Regions from separate parts of the Homo sapiens genome. Here regions 1 and 2 are each linked to region 3. Evidence: fine-mapped expression QTL. A gene starts in region 3. Each other region holds a variant in brackets. All regions are shown on one strand. Distances are from middle to middle. Region 1 holds the start of ZNF771 (zinc finger protein 771). Region 2 overlaps ZNF771 (zinc finger protein 771). Region 3 holds the start of CD2BP2 (CD2 cytoplasmic tail binding protein 2).

Region 1 (7,905 bases), 48 kb before region 3:
GCCCCGGGACCAGCTCCGAGGGCTCGCGTTCACCCCACTCATCCCAGCATTCAAGGCCTTGAACAGTTCGAATCTCCAGCCCCCGCAAGTCGCCACCATCCTTGCGCTGAGTCACTCCCCAGGGCCCGGGTCGGCGACCTGGAGCTCTGGGGCACGGGCTGGAGGCGGGATCGGGGCGGAAACCCCGGGGAGGGGGTGCGCACTCACCAGCCGAAGGTTCGGCACTCGCGGTGCCCCAGGCCTGGGCGCCGGGCGGCTGGGCACTCAGCGAGGCCGCGGCTCCGGGGGCGGGGAGGGGGCGGGACCGCAGGGACGGCCGGTCATTGGTCCGAACATATAGCCCCACCCCCTGGGGCGGAGCCCGAAGGACCCAGGCGTCCGGCCCAAACGGCTCGGAGAGGGCGGCGAGCTCAGACTTGGCGTCCTCCGCAGTCCCCCGACTCCCAAGCACCTGGAGCCGCCCCAGCCCGGCGTTCAAGGTCCTTGCCGCCGAGTTCCAACCTAACCTCGCGGCCCGTCTCCTGGGGCCGGCTTGGAGGTCTCCGCTGCGCCCAGTGCCTCTGCTCCGCCCGAAATAGGCCACGTGCGCTCCCGCCCCGGCCTGGGCCTCTCCCTGGCGCCCCGCCTGGAGGGCGGACCCTGTTGCCTCCTCACTTCTTCCATTCCCTCTTTATCTCCTCTGCCGTCTTTTCTCCATCTTTCTCGGCTTCGCCTATTCCGCTGGCCTCTGGGATATCCTTGAATACATCCTAACCAATTCAACATCCACCCAAGCTACCGCTGTCGCGTCATGCGTGGGGTGCTTACCATGCGCCAGCGCTGTTCAGCGTCTTACATACCTGGTCTCATTTGATCCGCATAACGATGGGTCCTGATCCATTTTACAGATGAGCTCACTGAAGTTCAGGGAGGTAAACTGATTTGCCTAAGTTACACGATAAGGATGTCATAGCATCCCTGACAATCAGTAGCCTAGGTGAACAACAGCCCAAAGCTAAATCCAGTCCACAGGGGTACCTTGTTTGGCCCTTAGGGTATTTTTACTTTTAAAAAATCTTTTCGGACGGGCACGGCGGCTCACGCCTGTAATCCCAGCACTTTAGGAGGCCGAGGCGGGCGGATCACGAGGTCAGGAGATAGAGACCATCCTGGCTAACACGGTGAAACCCCGACTCTACTAAACAAAATACAAAAAATTAGCTGGGCGTGGTGGCGGGCACCTGTAGTGCCAGCTACTCGGGAGGCTGAGACAGGAGAATGGCGTGAACCCGGGAGGCGAGCTTGCAGTTAGCCGAGATCGCGCCACTGCGCTCCAGCCTGGGCGACAGAGCGAGACTCCGTCTCAAAAAAAAAAAAAAAAAAAAAAAAAAAAAATCGTTTCAAAGCCGGGCGCGGTGGCTCATGCCTGTAATCCCAGCACTTTGGGAGGCGGAGGCCGGTGGATCACTTGAGGTCAGGATTTCGAGACCAGCCTAACCAACATGGTGAAACCCCGTCTCTACTAAAAATACAAAAATTAGCCAAGCTTGGTGGTGCATGCCTGTAATCCCAGCTACTCGAGAGGCTGAGGCACGAGAATTGCTTGAACTGGGGAGGCAGTGGTTGCAGTGAGCCGAGATCATGCCATTGGTCTCCAGCCTAGGCAACAAGAGCGAAACTCCGTCTCAAGAAAAAAAAAATTAAATTGGGATATTTCATATAAAAATAGATTTTTTTTTAGTGGAATAAACAAATGCCACTTCCTTTGAAAAACAGCCACTTCCCTTGAAAAAGCAGATATCTAATTTTCCCATTTTATGAATGGGGCAACTAAGATTCAGAAATCATGAAGGAAAACAGAAATAACATTCAGTAAGTGCTTACAAGTTCTATGTTGTCTCTTTACAACAGCCCTGTTGGGATCAATAATATCTCCATTGGACAAAAGAAGAAACGGAAGCTTAGACAAGTTAAGTAATTTGCTCAAAGTCACACAGCTGGCAAGCAGCAGATTCAAAGCTTGTGCTCTTCTATTGCACCAAATTACCTCTCAGGAATGAAGTTATAAAACTGGCTCTTTCCCAGAGCTGGGAGAAGGGGTCAAATGCCTGGATACTCACACACAGGATCCCCAAAAGCCACTTTGCATTCATTCTCTGAGTTTTTTTTTTTTTTTTTTTTTTTTTTTGAGATGGAGTCTTGCTCTGTCGCCCAGGTTGGAGTGCAATAGCACAGTCTAGGCTCACTGCAACCTCCGCTTCCCAGGTTCAAGTGATTCTCCTGCCTCAGCCTCCCAAGTAGCTAGGATTACAGGCACACACCACCACACCGGGCTATTTTTGTATTTTTTGTAGAGACGGGGTTTCACCATCTTGGCCAGGCTGGTCTCAAACCCCTGACCTCGTGATCCACCCACCTTGGCCTCCCAAAGTGCTGGAATTACAGGCTTGAGCCACCACGCCTGGCCTCTCTGGGTATTTATTGAGTCCTATATACCCGTCACCCTTCTAGGTATGGGGGATGTAGTAGTGAACAAAACAGATAAAAATAGTGGCTCTTGTGACACTACTAAGGGTGCAAACAAATGTACACATGTAAAGAGGAAGATAATATCAGATAATGATAGGTGCAACGGGGCAAATCTGACAAGATGATCCAACAGGGAGCAGCTATGGTAACAGGGGCTTCTTTAATGCAGGCAGGGAAGGTGTCTCAGGATACAATTTTTTTTTTTTTTTTGAGATGGAGTCTCATTCTATCACCCAGGCTGGAGTGCAGTGGCATGATCTCAGCTCACTGCAACCTCCACCTCCCGGGTTCAAGGGATTCTCCTGCCTCAGCCTCCCGAGTAGCTGAGATTACAGGTGCGCGCCATACACTCAGCTAATTTTTTTTTTTTTTTGAGGCGGAGTCTTGCTCCGTCTCCCAGGCTGGAGTGCAGTGGTGCGATCTCGGCTCACCGCAAGCTCTGCCTCCCAGGTTCACACCATTCTCCTGCCTCAGCCTCCCAAGTAGCTGGGACTATAGGCGCCCACCACCACGCCCAGCTAATTTTTTTTGTATTTTTAGTAGAGACAGGGTTTCACCGTGTTAGCCAGGCTGGTCTTGAACTCCTGACCTCAAGTGATCTGCCTGCCTTGGCCTCCCAAAGTGCTGGGATTACAGGAATGAGCCACCATGCCCAGCCTGGATACAATATTTTGTTTGTTTGTTTGAGACAGAGTCTCCAGCTGTCGCCCTGGCTGGTGGACAGTGGCGCAATCTTGGCTCACTGCAACCTCTGCCTCCCGGGTTCAATTCTCCTGCCTCAGCCTCCCGAGTAGCTATGATTACAGGTGCCTGCCACCATGCCTGGCTAATTTTTTGTATTTTCAGTAGAGAAGGGGGTTTCACTATGTGAGCCAGGCTGGTCTCGAACTCCTGACCTCAAGTGATCCACCTGCTTCGGCCTCCCAAACTGCTGAGATTATAGGCGTGAGCCACCGCGCCCGGCCTGGATACAATATTTGAGATGAACCTTGAATGATGAGAAAGGGTTAGCCATTTGAAAATCTGGAAGAAGAGTGTTTGAGACTGAACTGCAGAGGCCTTGAGGCAGAAGCTTGTGTGTTTGA[G/A]GAATAGGAAGAAGACTTGTGTTGCTGGATCTGAGCATCCAAGGGAGTGAACAAGGGGAAATGTAGCAAGGGAGATGGAGGAGAGGTAGGCAGAGGGTAAACTTGGCCAGAACCCAACCTCTAGCGAAAGCAAAGCATCTCGCTCTGATTAAGAGAGAATCAGTGAGGAGACTCAGCCAGGAGCCTGTCTCTGGCAGTGAAAGTCCCTACTGGAAGGAGCCTCCTGCTGTTTTAAATAGGAACTTGGAAAAAGAAGGTAAAGGGCTCCATCGATTTGCCCTGCAACCATGTACAGGTATCTACTTGCAATACGATCTAGTTCATGTTCTTGAGGATCTCATAGTCTAGTAAAGAAGTTTTTGGGCCATGCGCGGTGGTCACACCTATAATCGCAGCACTTTGGGAGGCTGAGGCAGGTGGATCACCTGAGGTCAGGAGTTCGAGACCAGCCTGGCCAACACCCCATCTCTACTAAAAATACAAAAATTAGCCTAGTGTGGTAGCGCATGTCTATAGTCCCAGCTACTTGGGAGGCTGAGGCAGGAGAATTGCTTAAACTCTGTCTCAAAAAAAAAAAAAAATAAGTTTTTGGGGCCAGGAGCAATGGCCCATACCTGTAATACCAACACTTTGGGAGTCCAAAGTGGGTAGTCGCTTGAGGTCAGGAGTTCAAGACCAGTCTGGCCAACATGGCGAAACCCTGTCTTTACTAAAAATACAAAAATTAGCTGGGCATGGTGGCACACGCCTGTAATCCCAGCTATTTGGGAGGCTAAAGCATGAGAATCGCTTGAACCCAGGAGGTGGAGGTTGCAGTAAGCTGAGATCGTGCCACTGCACTCCAGCCTGGGCAACAGAGCAAGACCCTGTCTTAAAAAAAAAAGAAGACGGAGAAGGAGGAAGAAGAAGAAGAAGAGGAATAGGAAGAGGAAGAAGAAGAAAAGGAGAAGAAGAAGAAGAAGAAGAAGAAGAAGAAGAAGAAGAAGAAGAAGAAGCAGCAGCAGCAGCAGCTTGTGGGCTGGGCGTGGTGGCTCTCACCTGTAATCCTAGCACCTTGGGAGGTTGAGGCAGGTGGATTGCTTGAGCTCAGGAGTTGGAGACAAGCCTGGGAAACGTGGTGAAACCCCGTCTGTACAAAAATCACCAAAAAAAAGAAAATTAGCTGAGCATAATAGTGCACGTGCCTGTAGTCCCAGATACTTGTGCGGCTGAGGCAGGAGGAGCACTTGAACCTGGGAGGTTGAGGCTGCAGTGAGCCGATATTGCATGCTGCACTCCAGCCTGGGTGACAAAGTGAGACTCTGTCTCAAAAAAAAAAAAAAAAGAAGCTTCTGATTTAAAATAGATCTCTAAATATACAGTATGAGTGATATAAGAAAAGGATAACAGGGTGTTCTAGCAGGAGAAGAGTGGGGTAAGTGAACCACTCTTTCGGGGGTATTAGGTATTTCGTGCTGGTCTCACTGAGAAGGTAACTGTGAAGGACCTTGAAAGATGAGTGGGTGTCAGGTGTGGTGACGCACACCTATGGTCCCAGCTACTTAGGAGGCTGAGGCAGGAGGACTGCTGGAGCCCAGGGGTTCAAGGCTATAGTGCACTATGTGCCTGTGAATAGCTACTGTATTCCAGCCTGGGCAATATAGTGAGAGCTCATCTGTAAAAAAAACAAGCAAACAAAAACTAAAGATGAGTGGGACTTTGCCAGATTGGCAAGGAGGCAGTAGTTTGTGGAAATATATATATATATTTTGAGACAGGGTCTCACTCCGTCCCCCAGGCTGGAGTGCAGTGTGCAGTCACAGCTCACCGCAACCTTGACTTCCCAGGCACAAGCGATCCTCCTGCCTCAAGCCTCCCGAGTAGCTGGGATTACAGTATTTTCTGGTGGTGGCGGGGGTCGTTTTTGTTTTTTGGAGACAAGATCTTGCTCTTTTGCCCAGGATGGAGTGCAGTGGCATGATCATGGCTCACTGCAGCCTCAACTTCCTGGGGCCAAGCGATCCTCCCACCTCAGCCTCCTGAGTTGCTGGGACTACAGGTGCATTCCACCTAATTTTTGTATTTTTTGTAGAGAGGTCTCACTATGTTGCCCAGGCTGGTCTCGAACTCCTGGCCTCCTGGCCTCCTGCCTCAACCTCTCAAAATGCTGGGATGACAGGCCTGAGCCACACCTGGCCTGGAAAGGCCTTTGGATCACAGAGGATTCTTTCCAGCTCATAGGTTTGCTGGACATTTCTCACCTCACTTGTAATTATTTGTTCAATGTCTATCTCCCGCATAAAAACAGGTCAGGGACTTTGTCTTGTTTATCTTTCTATCCCAGTATGCAGCACACAATAGGTGCAGCTGTTGAGTGAGTAACTATCCTCAAGAAGCTCTTCATGTGTTAGGTGCTCAGAGACGGGTTGCTCAGAGAAGGGGATTGTAACTAACCCAGACGAGGGTCAGAGTAGGCTTCTTGGAGGAAGTAGTGCTTGAGGTGTTTTGACAGAGGAGATTAACAAGGGGTGGGTAGTGGTGGAGGAGCATTCCAAGTAAAAGAAACGACATTTAAGGAGCCCAGGGCTGAAACTACACAAATGGAAGGGCTTGAGTGCCAATGAAAGTTAGGCTTTGGGGACAGCATGTGGAGATCCACTGGGGTTTCAATGGGGGAGTGACATGGCCAGATGTAATTTTAGAAAGCAGGCCAGGCACGGTGGCTCATGCCTATAAATCCTAGCACTTTGGGAGGCCGAGGCGGGCAGATCACCTAAGGTCAGGAGTTTGAGACCAGCCTGGCCAACATGGTGAAACCCCGTCTCTACTAAAAATAAAAAAATTAGCCAGGCGCGGTGGCGGACGCCTGTAATCCCAGCTACTAGGGAGGCTGAGGCAGGAGAATCGCTTGAACCCGAGCGGAGGCTGCAGTGAGCCGAAGATCCTGCCACTGCACTCCAGCCTGGGCGACAGAGTGAGTGAGACCCTGTCTTGAGAAAAAAAGAAAAAAGAAAAAGAAAGAAATCAAGAAAAGAAAGTGGCCAGGCGCGGTGGCTCACGCCTGTAATCCCAGCACTTTGGAAGGCTGAGGCGGGCGGATCACGAAGTCCGGAGTTCGAGACCAGCCTGACAAACATGGTGAAACTCCGTCTCTACTAAAAATACAAAAATTAGCCGGGCTTGGTAGCGCGCCTGTAATCCCAGCTACTCAGGAGGCTGAGGCAGGAGAATCGCTTGAACCCGGGAGGCGGAGGTTGCAGTGAGCCAAGATCGCGCCACTGCACTCCAGCCTGGGCGACAGAGCGAGACTCCGTCTCAAAAAAAAAGAAAAGAAAGTTCACTGCAGGTCGTCTTGGAGGGCACACTGGTAGGGAAGGGAGCTAGGAAAACCAGCAAGAAGGAACTTCCAGAAGCCCCAAAGGGCTCCGCTCAGGCCATCAAGAGCCCCAGCCCTGAACGCAGGGTTCTAGGGTTTTGAGAGCGCATCAATTTGGAAAGGGCGGGCGGAGCGGGAGGAGCCGCACTGCAGCCAGCCCTGGTCGGTTTCTAGGGAAGCCAGGCCAGTGCTTACGATCTCGCGAGAACCCGTCCAGGGATTCTTTCCGCACGGAGATCGGGGAGAGCCGGGGGCGGGAACTTGCGACCCTGTACTTCGTTGCCTTCATTGTTTAGCGGGGAGAACCGCCCTGGACTTCTTTTTTCTTTAATCCCTGGCCGATCAGGCCAGTGGTTGTGAAAACGCTAGGGATTGCAGACCTGCTTCCCAGGCCCCGCGGGGCGCCGGGAAATCCGGCGGGCTTTTCTGGGGGTGAAGGAGCACCGTTTGCCCTCCCTTTGGGCTGTGCAGCCGAATGACTCATTTCCCGACGCATAAAAAGGGTCTCGGGTGTCGGGTTTCCCAGGTCCCGGTGGGCGGCGCGCCGGCGTCCGGGCTTTCCACGCCGGTTCCAGACCTGTGGGCTGCCTCCCGCCGACAGCCGTCGCCATAGCAACAACGCCCCCCACACGCCCCCTCTTCCTCCTCCTTGCTGCCTTGTCTCTGCAGCGCCGCGCGGTTTTCCTTTTAAGGGTCGCGCTGGATGCTGTGGCGTAGGTGGTGCCTGCGGGCAGCCAGACCTCAGGCCTGGGGCATCGGCTGATGGAGCTGGCGGCCGTTTTTGAACCAGACGTCGGAGCTAGAAAGCCGCTGACTACGCCAAGACAACCTCTTTATTTAATGGGCTCAGAGAGCAAGGGAAGCACACAAAATTTACAGTCTGAGTTTTGCGCGCAGAGACCCCTCTCCACCTTTTTCATGCCTGTGTGTACACACACACTGTCCAAGCCTCAGAAG
Region 2 (7,905 bases), 58 kb before region 3:
TCCTAGACTGTTCTAGGCACGGGGATTCCGCATTAAATAAAAAGCATTAAAAAATTCCTGCTTTCAGAAATAATGGATAAGGAATGCTGGTATTGGGGATGCTACAGATTTAAACAGGGTTGTCAAGACACTTTACCGATATGATAACATGAGCAAAGACTTAAAGGAGGTGACAGAGCAGGCTACGTGGATAGCCCTCTGAGGAGCACTGCAGAGGGAACGGCAGGGCGCAGAGGCGGGAGTTGCCTGCTGTTCCAGAAATGGCAAGAAAAATTGGTTAAAGCAGAATGCATGATGGGGGGAGTCACGGATGTAGTGGTGGAGATCTCTTGGCATATAGGGCCTTGTATTTGTTATATTTGGCTTTTTTTTTTTTTTTTTTTTTTAAGAGACAGGGTCTTGCCGTGGCCCAGGCTTGGTCCCGAACCTCCTGGCTCAAGCAGTCCCTCCTGACTCAGCCTTCTGAGTAGCTGGAGTTACAGGCACATACCACTGTGCCTGGCTCTGGCTTTTATTATAAAGGAGACAGGGACCTGTAAGAGGAGATGTCAGAGGGCTTTGAGCAGGGAAGTGACCATATCCTACACATTTAAAAAGGCTCCCCTCAGGCTACTGGGGTTGAAAACCAAATGAAGGAGTTGGAGAGAGCAGAAGCAGAAGCCCAGTGAGGAGGCCACTACAGCCACCTGGCAAGAGAAGATAGTGGCTCATACCCAGGTGACAGAAGTGGACGGTGGATGGTGGAGGTGGTGAGAAGTGATTGGCTTCTGGATCTATTTGCAGTGTGAGACAATAGATTTAATAAGAGATTAGATATGAGGTGTGAAGAAAAAGAGATCAAAATGACTTCAAGGTTTTTGAGCTTAGCAACTGCAAAGGTGGAGTTGCCATTTACAGAGATGAGGACGGTGGGAGGAGCAAGTTGAGAGGGGAGATCTGTTTTGGATGGTGTCACGGCTTCTTGACATATCTGGAGCTCAGAAGCGAGGCCTAGACTGGAGATGTTAATTGAGAAGCTGTCAACCTATAGATGGTTTATAAAGCCTTGAGAATGAGTGGATGAGATCATCCAGGGGATGGGCAGACAGAACCTAGGGCAGCAAGATGGGGAGAAGCCAGGGAGGGAGGAGAGCAGGAGAGGGGCATCCTGGAAGCCAGGCCAGGACCAAGTCCAGGCTCTTAATCAGCTTTGAATAGCAAACACCTATCATTTTTTAAGCAGTGAAGAAAAAGGCAAGGGTAAAAGCCAAATGTTATTCTGAGGTCTGAAATGAAACAATCTGAAAATGAGCCAGTTTCACAAGCTCTGGCCTTTTAGAGATAAAAATCAGAAAAAGGAAAGAAATGCCTTCTAAGAGGCACATGAAGGGAAAACATTCTGGACTAACAGTGAAGAGTATTGAGGGCATATTGCTCCCTTCCTAGAAAAGAGAACGCTCAAAACCCCAGCAAAACTGATGTCGCGTATCTACTGTGGCCAAGCAATTAATTCATGACCAAATGAAGTGCCTGGGGCATATTAAGGACAAGACAGTGTCAGCTTCTCCCATATTCGATCTCCACGAGGTAATTATCATCATCCCTATTTTACAGATGGGGAGACAGGTGAAGAGAGAGGGACAGCAAGGCCAGGTGCAGTGGCTCACGCCTGTAATACCAGCACTTTGGGAGGCCGAGGCAGGTGGATCACGAGGTCAGGAGTTCAAGCCCAGCCTAGCCAAGATGTTGAAACCCCGTCTCTACTACAAATACAAAAATTAGCTGGGCGTGGTGGCGGACGCCTGTAATCCCAGCTACTCGGGAGGCTGAGGCAGGGAACTGCTTGAACCCGGGAGGTGGAGGTTGCAGTGAGCCAAGATTGCACCACTGCCTCCAGCCTAGGTGACGGCAAGACTCCGTCTCAAAAAAAAAAAAAAAAAAAAAAGGGTGACAGCAGAAAATAGTAGGGCCTTCTGTTTCTGAAGCTGCAGGAGGGCAACTTCAAGGCCTTCAAGATAGTTTGTCAAAAGGTAGTGGCTTTGTGGTAACCAACTCAGAAATTAGAAAATAAGCCAGGCGTGGTGGTTCACACCTGTAATCCCAGTACTTTGGGAGATCGAGGTGGGCGGATCACTTGAGGTCAGGAGTTCAAGACCAGCCTGGCCAACATGGTGAAACCCTGTCTCTACTAAAAATACAAAAATCAGCTGGATGTGGTGGCTCATGCCTGTAATCCCACCTACTCAGGAGGCTGAGGCAGGAGAATCACTTGAACCCGGGAGGCAGAGGTTGCAGTGAGCTGAGATCATGCCACTGCACTCCAGCCTGGGGAACAGAGTGAGATTCCATCTCAAAAAAAAAAAAAAAAAAAAAAAAAAAAAGAGGCCGGGCGCGGTGGCTCACGCCTGTAATCCCAGCACTTTGGGAGGCTGAGGTGGGCAGATCACAAGGTCAGGAGATCGAGACCATCCTGGCTAACATGGTGAAACCCCATCTCTACTAAAAAAATACAAAAAATTAGCCAGGCGTGGTGGCAGGTGCCTGTAGTCCCAGCTACGCGGGAGGCTGAGGCAGGAGAATGACATGAACCCGGGAGGCGGAGCTTGCAGTGAGCGGAGATGCGCCACTGCACTCCAGCCTGGGCAACAGAGCGAGACTCCGTTGAAAAAAAAAAATTAGAAAACAGGGCAATTTAGAAAATTAGTGACCAAGAGAAATCTGGTTTAAATAGTATCTATACTGATAACAATAGCAACAATCAATAACAAAGTATTAAGCTTTGACAACACTATGTATGTTATTGTATTAAATCCTCCTGTCACCCGCCTTGAGCTGGGTGTTCTCTCTTTTGATAGCTGAGAAAGCTGAGGCTGAGGGCGATGAAATTCACATGGCCAGTGGGAGCCAGGATGGACTCAGGGTGCCCATGAGACCATGCCGTCATTCAGGCTACACTGTTCTGAACTCACGTGACCAAGATGTGACAGAGGCTGGATTCCACGTCCCTGGCACACTCCAAGAGGGATTCAAGGTTAAAATACAACTTGATACTTTAAATGGAGAAACTCCCCACAGTATGTTTGGTACCATCTGAATTCAAGGTCACATTTTCCAGTCTTGCCCTGGTTTTGAAATCTATTGGTTTATTTCAATACATCAGCCACTGTGGAGAGAACTTGTCTCATCAGATCTACATTTTTCTGGCCCGTTTTTCCTTGGCACCCTCTTTCAGGTGACTTTGGACAGCCTGAGGGCTTCCTCATGCTGAGTTCACTGACTTCTGAAAAAGAAATTCTCCATACAAGCACTGTTGATGTCTCCAGCCCAGGAGAAGGGGCCTTGGATGCCCGAGGAAAAATCTTGGTAAGAGGAGCTGAATCCAGCTCATTAAGATCCTCCTCTGCCCCAGTGTCCCGAGAAAGGCCAGGTAGGCTAAGTGAGATCAAATTCCCAGTATGAGGCCAGGTGCAGTGACTCACACCTGTAATCTTAGCACTTCGGGAGGCCAAGGAAGGAGGATTACTTGAGGCCAGGAGTTGGACACCAGCCTGGGCAACACAGTTAGACCTCGTCTCTACAAAAAGTGAAAAATTAGCCAGGTGTGGTGGGGTGCACTTGTAGTCCCAACAACTTGGTAGGCCGAGGAAGGAGGATCACTTGAGCCCAAGAGTTCAAGGCTGCAGTGAGCTACAATCACGTGCCACTGCACTCCAGCCTGGGTGACAAAGCGAGATCGTGTCTCTAAAAAAAGAAAAAAAAACCCAAAATTTCCCAGCATGAGGTATAAGGTGGTATGTGGGCAAACTTTAAAAAAGTCTCATAATTGTTACACATTTATTTTCACGAATATTTAAAAAACAAGATATCACATGAAACCCACAATTTCATCAGTACTATTGTTTAGATGAAGGTACATTTATTTAACAAAACAATGTGAATCTATTTGAAGAAAAACATTAATAAATAATGTGAGTACAACATATGAGCAATACACATGTGACTGAAACTTGGCAAATACCAGACTAGGTGATCATTAATGGCCCAAGCATGTCTTAAATTCTACAACTATTAGATTTAAAAATTAGAATAAATGGTATTTGCACTATAACAGGAGGCTACTGTGAACATACAATGTAGTGTAATAATATAATAATCCAGGTATTAGAAGTTAGTGATTTTTGTTTTCCTGCTTAAATGTTTTTTAACCAGAGCAAACATCCCAGTTTCTTCCTTAGCCATTACTTCTCTAATTAATAAAATAACTCCCACTTGTTGGGCACTCACCATGTGCCAGGAACTGTGCTAAGTGCTTTTTACCAGTACTGTCTTTCTAAATTCTCGCCATGGCTTTCGTTAGGTACCTTAGCCCTGTTTTATATATAAGGAAATAAGACTCAGAAGTTAAGTGACTACACAAGGCAAGGCTATTCAGCTAATAAATGGCAGAGCCAGGGTTTGAACTGAATTTACTCATTTTCCAGAACACCTATTCTCTTAACCATGATGCAATTCTTTTTTTATTCTCTTTTTTTTTTTTGAGAAAAGGTCTCACTGTGTCACCCAGGCTGGATGCAGTGGCATGATCACGGCTCACTGCAGCCTTGACTTCCCGGGCTAAAGCAATCCTCCTGACTCAACCCCCCAAATAGCTGGCGCTACAGGGGTGTGCCACCACACCCGGCTAATTTTTGTATTTCAGTAGAGATGGGGTTTTGCCATGTTGCCCAGGCTGGTCTCGAACTCCTGAGCTCAATCAATCCTCCTGCCTCA[G/A]CCTCCAAAAGTGCTGGGATTACAGGCAAGAGCCATCACGCCCAGCCTCCATGATGCAATTCTAATCTCACTGACTAGAGTTTGAGGCCACTTACACAGCTTGTCTCCCTCCCCTGGCCCCTTTTTGCGGTCACAGTCTTCCTTCATTTTGGCACAAACTATTAAACACAACCACTGTCTTCTAGTTCCTTGCTGGAGGATGTGTGGTCCACAGACCAGCAACATCAACATCACTGGGAACTTTTTACAAATGCAGAATCTCAAATCCCACTCCAGATTTTACTGAATTAAAATCCTCATTTTAACAAGACCCCTGGGTGATCTGTATGCATGTTAAAAATTAAGAAACTGATCTAGATGAGAAAAGAGCTACTCCTGGAGAAAGCAGGGAGCAAAGGTGAAGAGGGCTTTGCGGGCTGAGACCACAAGGGGGGATGGGATAGGTGTCGAGGGGATGAAGCCAGAATGGCATGAGGTCAGATGGTAAAGAGCTTTGAATGCCAAGTTTAGGAGCTGAGACCTCACCCTGAGGGAAACAGAAAACCACTCAAGGGTTCAAGCCAGGGAAAGATAGGTTTGGATGTGCATGGAGCCCTCAGAAAATCTTTCTAAAAGATAGATTGGGTTTTGATGGCAGAGGGAGAATACTCCAGCCCCTGCATGCAGCGTAATTAAGGCCCTTCTGGACAGTGACTGGCCACAGGACTGGCAATAGCTAGGACTCACTGAATGTCACCACTGGAAGGTGTTTTCGAGGTCACCATTTCATAGATGGAGAAATGAGGCTCAGGAAGGCCCACAGCAAGCTAACGATCGAGCACCCTTCTGGGCACGATGCTAACAGTTCATGGGATATGTGTGCATAATCCTCAATTCCACCCATCTCCTCCAAATCTAGTCACCTTGATGACACTTCTCAGACTGGCATTCAGGGGTCTTACTCTATTACCCCATTTTACAGATGAGAAAGCCAAAGAAAAGCTGGTAAACGGTGGAGTTACGACCGCTACATGATACCATTCACAATCTGGCCCTGTGTGCCTTTCATGACTAGCCATGTCAGACCTTCACCGCACATACCCCTTGGCTCTAGCCAGGTTCCTAAATGGCCCCTTTTCCTCATCATTGCTGTTACTACCTTAGAGCAGGCCCTACCTGGCCTGGGCTCCCTGTAGCAGCCAATAATTCTTCTAAACAGAAAATCCAATCATGTCCCTCCTCTGATTTTTTTTTTTTTTTGAGATGGAATCTTGCTCTGTTGCCCAGGCTGGAGTGCAGCGGTGCAATCTCAGCTCACTGCAACCTCCGCCTCCCAGATTCAAGCGATTCTCCTGCCTCAGCCTCCCAAGTAGCTGGGATTGCAAGCAGGTGCCACCACACCCGGCTAATTTTTGTATTTTTAGTAGAGATGGGGTTTCACCATGTTGGCAAGGCTGGTCTCGAACTCCTGACCTCAAGTGATCCGCCCGCCTCAGCCTCCCAAAGTGCTGGGATTACAGGCATGAGCCACCACGCCTGGCCTGTTTTTGTTTTTTGAGACAGGGTCTCTCTCTGTTGCCCAGGCTGGAGTACAGTGGTGCAGTCATGGCTCACTGCAGCCTTGAACTCCTGGGATCATTCAGCCTCCAGAGTAGCTAGGACTACAGGCATGCCACCATGCCCAGCTAATTAAACTTTTTTTTTTTTTTTTTTTTTTTTTTTGTAGAGATGAGGTCTCCCTATGTTGCCCAGGGAGGAATCGAACTCCTGGGCTCAAGTGATCCTCCCACCTTGGCTTTCCAAAGTGCTAGGATTACAGGTGTGAGCCACCACGCCTGGCTCTTCCCATGATTTAAGGCTTCTTATGGTGCCACAGAACCTAACACAGTACGTCCTGCCCTAGCTTGCAAGGCCCCTCTGTCCCCCAACTGCCTTTCCAGTCTCATTTCCTCTGAGTCTTTGTTTTTGCTGTTTCCTCCTCCTGGAATGCCCTTCCTCCTCCTCCATGTGCCAAACCCCTGCAAAGCCTTCAAGGCCCAAGTCAAAAATCATCTCCTCTGGGAAGCCTTCCCCACTGCCTTGAGTCGTTTGTCTTCAATCCTCTGTGCCCCCACATTCACTTCCCTGATCAACCCCAGTTCTCATGGTTCAGCCCAGGCCTTTGATAAAAATGAGTTGAGCCAGGCGTGGTGGCTCACGCCTGTAATCCCAACACTTTGGGAGGCCGAGGCGGGCGGATCATGAGGTCAGGAGTTCGAGACCAGCCTGACCAATATGGTGAAACCCCACCTCTACTAAAAATACAAAAATTAGCTGGGCATGGTAGTGCGCACCTATAATCCCAGCTACTCAGGAGACTGAGGCAGGAGAATGGCATGAACCCGGTAGGTGGAGGTGCGGTGAACCAAGATTGCGCCACTGCACTCCAGCCTGGGCGACATAGTGAGACTCCGTCTCAAAAAAAAAAAAAAAAGTTGAAAAATCTCAAGAAGGATGACCTTGCCCAAGGTCCTGAGCTTTGGGGAGAAGAATAAATGTAACAGCAACTATTTCCGTGTTTATTTTGTGCCAGACACAGTTCTAACTCTGTGCATGTGTTGACTCATTCATTCCTCACAACTCCAAGATGTAGGTGCTGTTATAATTTCCCTTTTACAAATGAGGAAACTGAGGCGTGGAGCGGTTAGGAAACTTGGCCAAGGTCACACAGCGGGTAAATGATGGAGCTGGAAGTCCACCCTAAGCTCTGGAGCCTGTGTTTGTAACTTAGAGGCCAAAGGTGGAGATCAGGCAATCGCAGGGCCAGAAGAGGCAGGCAGAGCTGGATAATGGGCGAAGGGGGCCCGCAACAAACACAACCAGATAGTTATTAGACTATCCAGAGGCCTAAGGAGCTAGTCCCCTCCCCCAGCACCCAGCAGGCCCACTAGGGGGCAGCAGAGCATTCTTTCCCTGGGAACTGGCTCCTGGGCAGGAAGAATCAGAGTCCCGGCCCCTGCAAGCTGGGTCCCTGGGGCCAAAGCCCTCTGCTGGTACTCAGGGCTGCTCAGGCTGGGGGCAGACAGAATCCTCTGGGGTTCTGAGAAGCGGAAACGTATCTGGTGGCAGTTAGGGTCTCCAGGGGGTGAAATTTAACTCATATTCTGATCTCAAAACCTTCAAATACCCTCAGAATAA
Region 3 (7,905 bases):
GGTCCTTGCCTTGCCCCACCCTGGCCTTCCCGGCTTCTGCCCACAGGGCCGGCCAGTTCTCCCCTGATGGGGGCACAGCTGACTTGGCCCTCTTCTCATGGCTTGTCCCACCTGCAGGAGGCCATTCAGCTGGACGGGGAGATCTTTTTTGCACTCCTGCGCCGGGCCTCCCCGCTGGCGCATCGCCACCTGCGGCGGCAGCGCATTGACCCTGTGCTCTACATGACGGAGTGGTTCATGTGCATCTTCGCCCGCACCCTGCCCTGGGCGTCGGTGCTGCGTGTCTGGGACATGTTTTTCTGTGAAGGTACTTCTGTGGCCCTCCAGGCCATGAGGGGCTGGGGTTTCTGTGGTGGCTACCAGGGGTTCTGTCATATTTCTGGTGGTCCATGGACAAAAGGTACTTGTTGGGTGGAGGTTTCACCATAAGCAGCTGGGGGCTGGAGAAACAGGCCTGATTTTAGTTCTGCCACCAACCCAGAGCCTGCTCTCCCTGCCAAGATCCTGAGACTGATAGCAGCTCATGTACTTTCACAGGGCCTCAGTTTCCTCATCTGAGATTGGCAGTAGATGGGGATGGGGGCTGTGAGTCTATCCTGATCAGGACAGGCTGAGATCTTGGGTCTGACCACCCCATGCTCTCTACTCTCCACCCCTGCAGGCGTTAAGATCATCTTCCGGGTGGCCCTGGTCCTGCTGCGCCACACGCTGGGCTCAGTGGAGAAGCTGCGCTCCTGCCAAGGCATGTATGAGACCATGGAGCAGCTGCGTAACCTGCCCCAGCAGTGCATGCAGGAAGACTTCCTGGTGCATGAGGTAGGCCTGTGCCCTCAACGCAGCCCCTGCCTGCCTCAGCCCGCTCCCACCCTCAGCTCCATTCTGGTACGCATTTCCTCTCTGTGCAGGTGACCAATCTGCCGGTGACAGAAGCACTGATTGAGCGGGAGAATGCAGCCCAGCTCAAGAAGTGGCGGGAAACGCGGGGGGAGCTGCAGTATCGGCCCTCACGGCGACTGCATGGGTCCCGGGCCATCCACGAGGAGCGCCGGCGGCAACAGCCACCCCTGGGCCCCTCCTCCAGCCTCCTCAGCCTCCCTGGCCTCAAGAGCCGAGGCTCCCGGGCAGCTGGAGGGGCCCCGTCCCCGCCGCCCCCCGTCCGCAGAGCCAGTGCTGGGCCTGCCCCAGGGCCTGTGGTCACTGCTGAGGGACTGCATCCATCCCTTCCCTCACCCACTGGCAATAGCACCCCCTTGGGTTCCAGCAAGGAGACCCGGAAGCAGGAGAAGGAGCGGCAGAAACAGGAGAAGGAGCGGCAGAAACAGGAGAAGGAGCGGGAGAAGGAGCGGCAGAAGCAGGAGAAAGAGCGAGAGAAGCAGGAAAAGGAGCGAGAGAAGCAGGAGAAGGAGCGGCAGAAGCAGGAGAAGAAGGCTCAAGGCCGGAAGCTTTCGCTGCGTCGAAAGGCAGATGGGCCCCCAGGCCCCCATGATGGTGGGGACAGGCCCTCAGCCGAGGCCCGGCAGGACGCTTACTTCTGACCTCTGCCCTGGGGCTGGACTGCATGGCCCCCCTCTTTCCCTCAGCCAAGAACAGGCCTGGCCCAAGGTGCCACCCCCTAGCACCTTGTCAGGCTGTCCCTTGCTGGGGAAAGTGGCTTGGTTCCCCATCTCCTCGCCAGCTGCTGATCCCTACACGGGCAGGACAGATGGGCAGCTGCAAATGAGTCTGGAGCCTCTCATCTCCCATGAGGCTCAGCTGGGGTCTCTGTCGCTCCTGCCCCAGTTCCCTCTGGGTCCCCTCCTAGGTGCTGTCCTGAATGGCCCGTTGTCATCCCAGGGGTGACTCCTGGTGATGGGAGTCAGCAGTTTCAGATTCTTACACTCCATAGCTCCCCTTACCATGAGGTGGAGCTGGCTTCCTTTTCCCTGTCTTCAGCCCTCCCTGTCTCCCCCACTTCCTGGCCAGGGCTCTCATTCTGGACCTGTGTTGTAATTGTGTACAGAGGATGGCGTTGGCCTGGGGTGGGGGTGCTCGCTTTGTCTTCTGTCCTTTGGTTCTCCTTCCATAATGCTCCTGTACCCAGTTTATTTAAGGGGACATGCACTGGAATAGGAAATGTCCCCCATCTCCCTTCCTGCACCCTGCTGTGCTCCCTCCAAACCCACCTTGCTCTGTGTTCTCAGGCCCCCCTGCTTTTGTCTCACCAGGACCCATACCTTTCACCTTGTTCCCTTCCACCCCTCCAGTTAGTCCCTATCTGGGTAAGGGTCTTCCCTTGAGCTCCAGGGGGTGGAACCCAATGTTTACATTCTCTTCTGTCTCTGCCCCCACCCCATGCAGCGCTTTGAGGAATTGGAAAAGAACCTGCTGTTGTACCTGGGCCTGTTTTCTGCCTTGTTATTTGATGAGGGGGGGATGGGGTAAGGACGAGGGAGGGAGGGACAGAGCCAGGACCTGGGTCTCTGTTGAAGCAGTCTGCTGTCTTGGCAAGTAGGTACCTCTTAGCTTTGGGTCCATCTCTCAGTCACTCATCAGACACTGGTTGAGCTCCTGCTCCATCTTTGCCTGGGATCTGCTGTCTCCATTGTCACTGGCTGCCTGGAGCTCTCTATGTACCACGTGCAGCACCCGGATCTCCTTCCCAAAGTGCTCATGCAACTCCTGGAAGCTGGAGGGGGTACTCACAGTGGCTAGAAAGCCACTGTCCTCTGGGGATGAGATGGGTTCTTGGCCAGTTGCCTGGCACAGCTCCCAGTATTGGGTTTTGGTGGGGGGGGAGGGGGGACAGCAGCCCAGCCAGCCGCCTCCAGCTCGCGCCAGCCAGTGCCCACAGCCAAGTCTCCAGCTCTTCCTGGGTTTCTGCAGCCAGCTTGTAGGCCCGCCCACCTGTGCCCTCCACCCCAGGGGTCAGGATGGTAAAGGCATAGGGTTCTGCAGCCTTAAGGTGTGGTTCCACCTGGCAGTTCTCTAACAGGATGAGGCTCAGGGGTGCATGGTCGGTCTAGTGTTCTAGGTAGAAGAGGAGGTTTCCTCGGAGGATGAACCATCGGCGCTGGTAGCTGAGGTTTCGGGTCCCCTTCTTTAGCAGAATGCCTTCCTGGTCTGGGGCCTGTGTTCTGTAACCATGGAAGAAACTGAGCACGGACTTTCTGTGCAGTTTTCATCGTGATCCAATATGGGAGGAAACCCCTAGGGAGAGAGAAGTGGCCCATCTAGTTGCCTGGGGGAAGAGTAGGGGAACTCTCATGCTGTCCTCGTCTGGCTTCAGCACGTGCTGCCTGCGCACAGTCTTGGCTTAGGGGGATGCAGGCTCCGAGTGTCAAGAGCTAGGGGTCCCAGCACAGGGGCTGATCCCCGCTACCTCCCCAATTCCCCCTTCTGCTTGGGCCACATTCCGCTACCTGGGCAGGAGTTGCTAGGCCCTGTTTGCTCAGGGGGGCTTCATGCTGCAGAGAGGCACTGTTGCCCTTTTCCAGGCCTACCTGAGAGCAGGGCACAAGGGGCTTCTGGCCTGAGTACTGGCGCCAATGCCACCTCTCCAGTGATGGCTCTCCCACCTCAGAAACCAGGAACTCGCCCAGGGTATGGGCGTGGGACAAATTATTTCCCCTGGGTCCTAAAGGGAGGTGTGTTCAGAAAGTGCCCGGAGAGCCGTCCAGGGGCCCCAGGCTGGCCATCGGGAGAGTCAGGCTTCCCCTCGGAGAGGCAAGGCTGCACCTCTCAGGCTAGGAGGGCTGACCACTGGACCATAGGAATGGGAAGGCAGGATTTCTAACGAGACGGTAGGGGCGCTGAGCCCTTAGCCCTGGGGGAAGGGTGACTTGAACCCAGGACAGGAAAACGGAGCAGCAACCCACTGACCCTGCTCGGACTTTGCCCCTCCATCCTGACCCTGGGCGGCCCTTTAAGCAGATGCGCTCCAGTTTTTCTCCAGAGCCTCTACTGCTTGAATGACGGACTCGAAGCTACTTCCGGCCATTTCTCACGCCCAGTCAGAGTCCAGGAATTCTTAGGTTCCCTCTTCTCACCATTGTCCTCCCACGTGACTGACGTCACTTCTGGCGGGAGAGAGGGTGGAGGCGTCTTCGCTCGCTTATCGCATACTTCCGCCCGCTCTTCCAGTTAGTTCCCTAACCCGAGTGAAGCCACTTCCGGGCTTCCCGGGCGCCTTCCGCAGTCCTCTTCCGGGTGATGGCGGCCGGGTGCCCCGGATGTAGCCCTGGCGCAAGCATCTCTTCTTTTTTCCACCTCGCCTTCCGCGGATTCCCAGGTGAGTGCGCGAGGGTGGGACCGCCCGAATCCCCGTGGCCCTCTAAGTTGTACACAGCCCGGGACAGTTGGGGCTCACCACACGGAATTGGGAGTTCGGAGCAGGGAGGAACGGGGTGGCGAGAGCGCCAGGTCCTGGGTCTGCCGGGGCCCGGCGAGCTCCGAGAGAGCCAGGGTAGAGAGCGGGGGTCAGCCCGTGGAGCCGGTGGCGCGCAGACTGCGGGGGCTGGAGTTGGGGGCGGTCACGTGGTGAAGCCTGTCTCCTTTCAGCCAGGGTCGGGGGATCCAGAGGGTCCGCTCCTCCGTCCCCGCCCCGTTTAACTCGCGGATGCTAGACCCAAGTCCTGGAGGCCTCCTGGCTGCCAGCTTCCTTTCGGCCCCTGCTTTTGTGCTCCCTCCGCTCCCAAACTGTACCTGTCACAGACCAGGAAAAATGTTTGCTGTGCTGCGTCTGTTGGCGAGTCCCCTCCTCACCCGGTTCCCTTCCTCTGCATCCTTTCCTCAGCTTGAGAAACACCTCTTTGCCCCGTCATGCCAAAGAGGAAAGTGACCTTCCAAGGCGTGGGAGATGAGGAGGATGAGGATGAAATCATTGTCCCCAAGAAGAAGGTGAGGGGGCCAGACTGCTTTGTGTGGGGGAAAGAGGAGCTAGAAGCCTGAAGAGGAAGAAAGCTGGCGGGAGAGGGGCGGGGCGGGCAGGCAGAGAAAAGCCTAGTTTTTTCAGGTTCTCTGAGGAATGGGTTGGGAGCGTCTTTAGTGTGGCTCCTGAAATATTTGGGGAAGTAGTCGAGATCCTGAAATATTTGGGGAATATTTGGGTCCAGATCCGGAAGTATTTGGGGAGGTAGCCAGTAACCTGCATTTCTCAACTTTCTGGCTCCTGCTCACAGCTGGTGGACCCTGTGGCTGGGTCAGGGGGTCCTGGGAGCCGCTTTAAAGGCAAACACTCTTTGGATAGCGATGAGGAGGAGGATGATGATGATGGGGGGTCCAGCAAATATGACATCTTGGCCTCAGAGGATGTAGAAGGTAAGCTGTACCCAAGAATACACTCTGCTGGAAAAACAAGTAGGGGCCTCTGGTGGTGTGGAGCGAGGGAGGCTCCGGTCTCTTTTTTCCATGCCTGGAAAAGGGCACCTGTGTCTTTGGTGCAGGTCAGGAGGCAGCCACACTCCCCAGCGAGGGGGGTGTTCGGATCACACCCTTTAACCTGCAGGAGGAGATGGAGGAAGGCCACTTTGATGCCGATGGCAACTACTTCCTGAACCGGGATGCTCAGATCCGAGACAGCTGGCTGGACAACATTGACTGGGTGCGGCCCAGGGGCTGGCGTGGCTGGGGCCTGGGAGTGGCAGATGCTGGGCCTGCTCCCGTGGCAGTTGGTGGGAAATCACTCCATCTTCCCATTACAGGTGAAGATCCGGGAGCGGCCACCTGGCCAGCGCCAGGCCTCAGACTCGGAGGAGGAGGACAGCTTGGGCCAGACCTCAATGAGTGCCCAAGCCCTCTTGGAGGGACTTTTGGAGCTCCTATTGCCTAGAGAGACAGTGGCTGGGGCACTGAGGCGTCTGGGGGCCCGAGGAGGAGGCAAAGGGAGAAAGGGGCCTGGGCAACCCAGTTCCCCTCAGCGCCTGGACCGGCTCTCCGGGTTGGCCGACCAGATGGTGGCCCGGGGCAACCTTGGTGTGTACCAGGAAACAAGGGAACGGTTGGCTATGCGTCTGAAGGGTTTGGGGTGTCAGACCCTAGGACCCCACAATCCCACACCCCCACCCTCCCTGGACATGTTCGCTGAGGAGTTGGCGGAGGAGGAACTGGAGACCCCAACCCCTACCCAGAGAGGAGGTGAGCTTGGAGGACAGAGGAGGGGGCAGTGGGTAGGAAGTGAGACACTGGAGGCCAAATGGCTTTGCCTGTTATTTTAGAAGCAGAGTCGCGGGGAGATGGTCTGGTGGATGTGATGTGGGAATATAAGTGGGAGAACACGGGGGATGCCGAGCTGTATGGGCCCTTCACCAGCGCCCAGATGCAGGTGAGCTGCTTTCTCCCTCCTCCTGCCTTGTCCCTGCTTCCCCCACTCCTGTCAGTTGTTCCCCAGCTCTGCCCTCTCCTTGCAGACCTGGGTGAGTGAAGGCTACTTCCCGGACGGTGTTTATTGCCGGAAGCTGGACCCCCCTGGTGGTCAGTTCTACAACTCCAAACGCATTGACTTTGACCTCTACACCTGAGCCTGCTGGGGGCCCAGTTTGGTGGGCCCTTCTTTCCTGGACTTTGTGGAGGAGGCACCAAGTGTCTCAGGCAGCGAGGAAATTGGAGGCCATTTTTCAGTCAATTTCCCTTTCCCAATAAAAGCCTTTAGTTGTGTACTGGGGCCTTGGCTGTGCTGATGGCCAGAAGCCAGGGGCCTTCTCCACAGTCCCTTTGGACTTGTCTTGGTCCCTGAGTACTCCCATGAAGATCCTTCTTGGAGGTGCCTGTCAGGTATCCTGTGGCCTCCCTGCCTGGACTCTGCTTGCCGTGTAAACACCCCCAACTGCGCTGCTCTGTGCTCCTCTCCCAGGTTTCTTGTTCGATTCCTCTTAGGTCTTTGGCTTTCAGGACCTCAGATTCTTTATCCTTGTAGCCACCAGAGGACAGAGCCCCAGAAGTGGATGTTTTAGGCCCAGAAGGACCAGGGCATCGAGAAGACATTGGGACCCTGTTGGGGGTGAGCATGGAACCCTCTTACTCTCGCTTCACCCTCTCAAGCTCCTTAGATGCTGGGCAGAAGTGGGATGAGTGGCCCAAGACCGAGATCCCTAAGGTTCTGAGAGCCAGTGTCTTCCCTAATCTGGCTTTCCTCTATCCTTGCCGTCGTTCCCACAGCCCTTCAGTGAAGTGCAAACTCAGTGGCCAAGTGTGGGCCAAGTGTGCATTGTACTGGCACAGAGAGGGGCAGTGACTCACTGGAGATCACAGGAATCAAAGGGCTGGCCCAGACCCAGTGGGCTCCTTTCCCAGACCTTTCTTGGCACAAAGCCTTTGCTGCCTGGCCTTGGAGGCCCTGCGGCCTACATTCTCTGGACCCCACTATGTGCCTGGCACAGGGCTAGTGCCTTGAGGAAACTGAGGTAGCTGGGTTGGTCCCCTTCCAGGAATTCAGAGTCTGGTGGCAGGGGCATGGGAAATAGACAGATGTAATTCTATAGCCTGGGCCTGGCACCCTCCACCTCCACGCCCCACCAGCATTGCCTTACGCCTCCCTTGCCCCACGTTAGATGGTTTCTTCCGGTTTTGCACTCTGGCTGCCCCTTGGAGTCTCCTGGGGAGCTGTAATATCTCTTTGGAGATTCAGATTGAGCTGGTCTAGGTTGTGGCCCAGGCATTGGGCATTTTGGAAGCCCCCAGGTGTTTTCAGCTTGCAGCCAGGCCGAGAGAGAGCCCCTGAGTCAGATCCCCATGGTTTAGGCACACCTAGCGGGAGGGGTGGCTCCTGGACCCCACCGTGGTTGGAGAGCTGAGCATGTGTGTGGCTTTAGTGGGGTCTGTTAGTTATGGGGGTCTGGGCACTGGAGCTGCAGGACACTTGGGATCCCAGGTCAGAAAGGGCCAGATGAGCAACTAGGAAAGACTTGGGGGCCAGGGCGGAGTGGGGTCACC

What was found.
Region 1: its variant is fine-mapped to the expression of CD2BP2 in whole blood (TOPMed, PIP 0.98).
Region 2: its variant is fine-mapped to the expression of CD2BP2 in whole blood (INTERVAL, PIP 0.99).

The regions. Positions count from the first base shown.
Region 1 is chr16:30,399,967-30,407,871 of GRCh38, reverse strand. It overlaps ZNF48 (zinc finger protein 48), which reads right to left. Exons shown (of 3, transcript NM_001214909.2): 3 at 7,764-7,905. ZNF771 (zinc finger protein 771) reads right to left here and starts at 266. Exons shown (of 3, transcript NM_001142305.2): 1 at 208-266. RefSeq lists silencers at 131-340, 363-542. The variant G/A (reference allele first, on the strand shown) is at 3,594.
Region 2 is chr16:30,409,402-30,417,306 of GRCh38, reverse strand. The region is part of intron 2 of ZNF771 (zinc finger protein 771); the gene reads right to left. Among named protein-coding and RNA genes, the nearest start is that of ZNF771, 5.7 kb to the right of the region's middle. RefSeq lists a silencer at 7,642-7,731. The variant G/A (reference allele first, on the strand shown) is at 4,750.
Region 3 is chr16:30,351,574-30,359,478 of GRCh38, reverse strand. It overlaps CD2BP2 (CD2 cytoplasmic tail binding protein 2), which reads left to right and starts at 4,171. Exons shown (of 7, transcript NM_006110.3): 1 at 4,171-4,267; 2 at 4,772-4,875; 3 at 5,157-5,295; 4 at 5,421-5,578; 5 at 5,679-6,111; 6 at 6,192-6,298; 7 at 6,384-7,905. The coding sequence starts at 4,798. The coding sequence ends at 6,494. TBC1D10B (TBC1 domain family member 10B) reads left to right here. Exons shown (of 9, transcript NM_015527.4): 7 at 118-307; 8 at 662-816; 9 at 906-2,377. The coding sequence ends at 1,535. CD2BP2-DT (CD2BP2 divergent transcript) reads right to left here and starts at 4,045. Exons shown (of 2, transcript NR_184233.1): 1 at 3,859-4,045; 2 at 1-3,186. RefSeq lists enhancers at 4,000-4,059, 4,140-4,199, 3,254-4,205, 3,937-4,231, 3,922-5,121 and 1 more.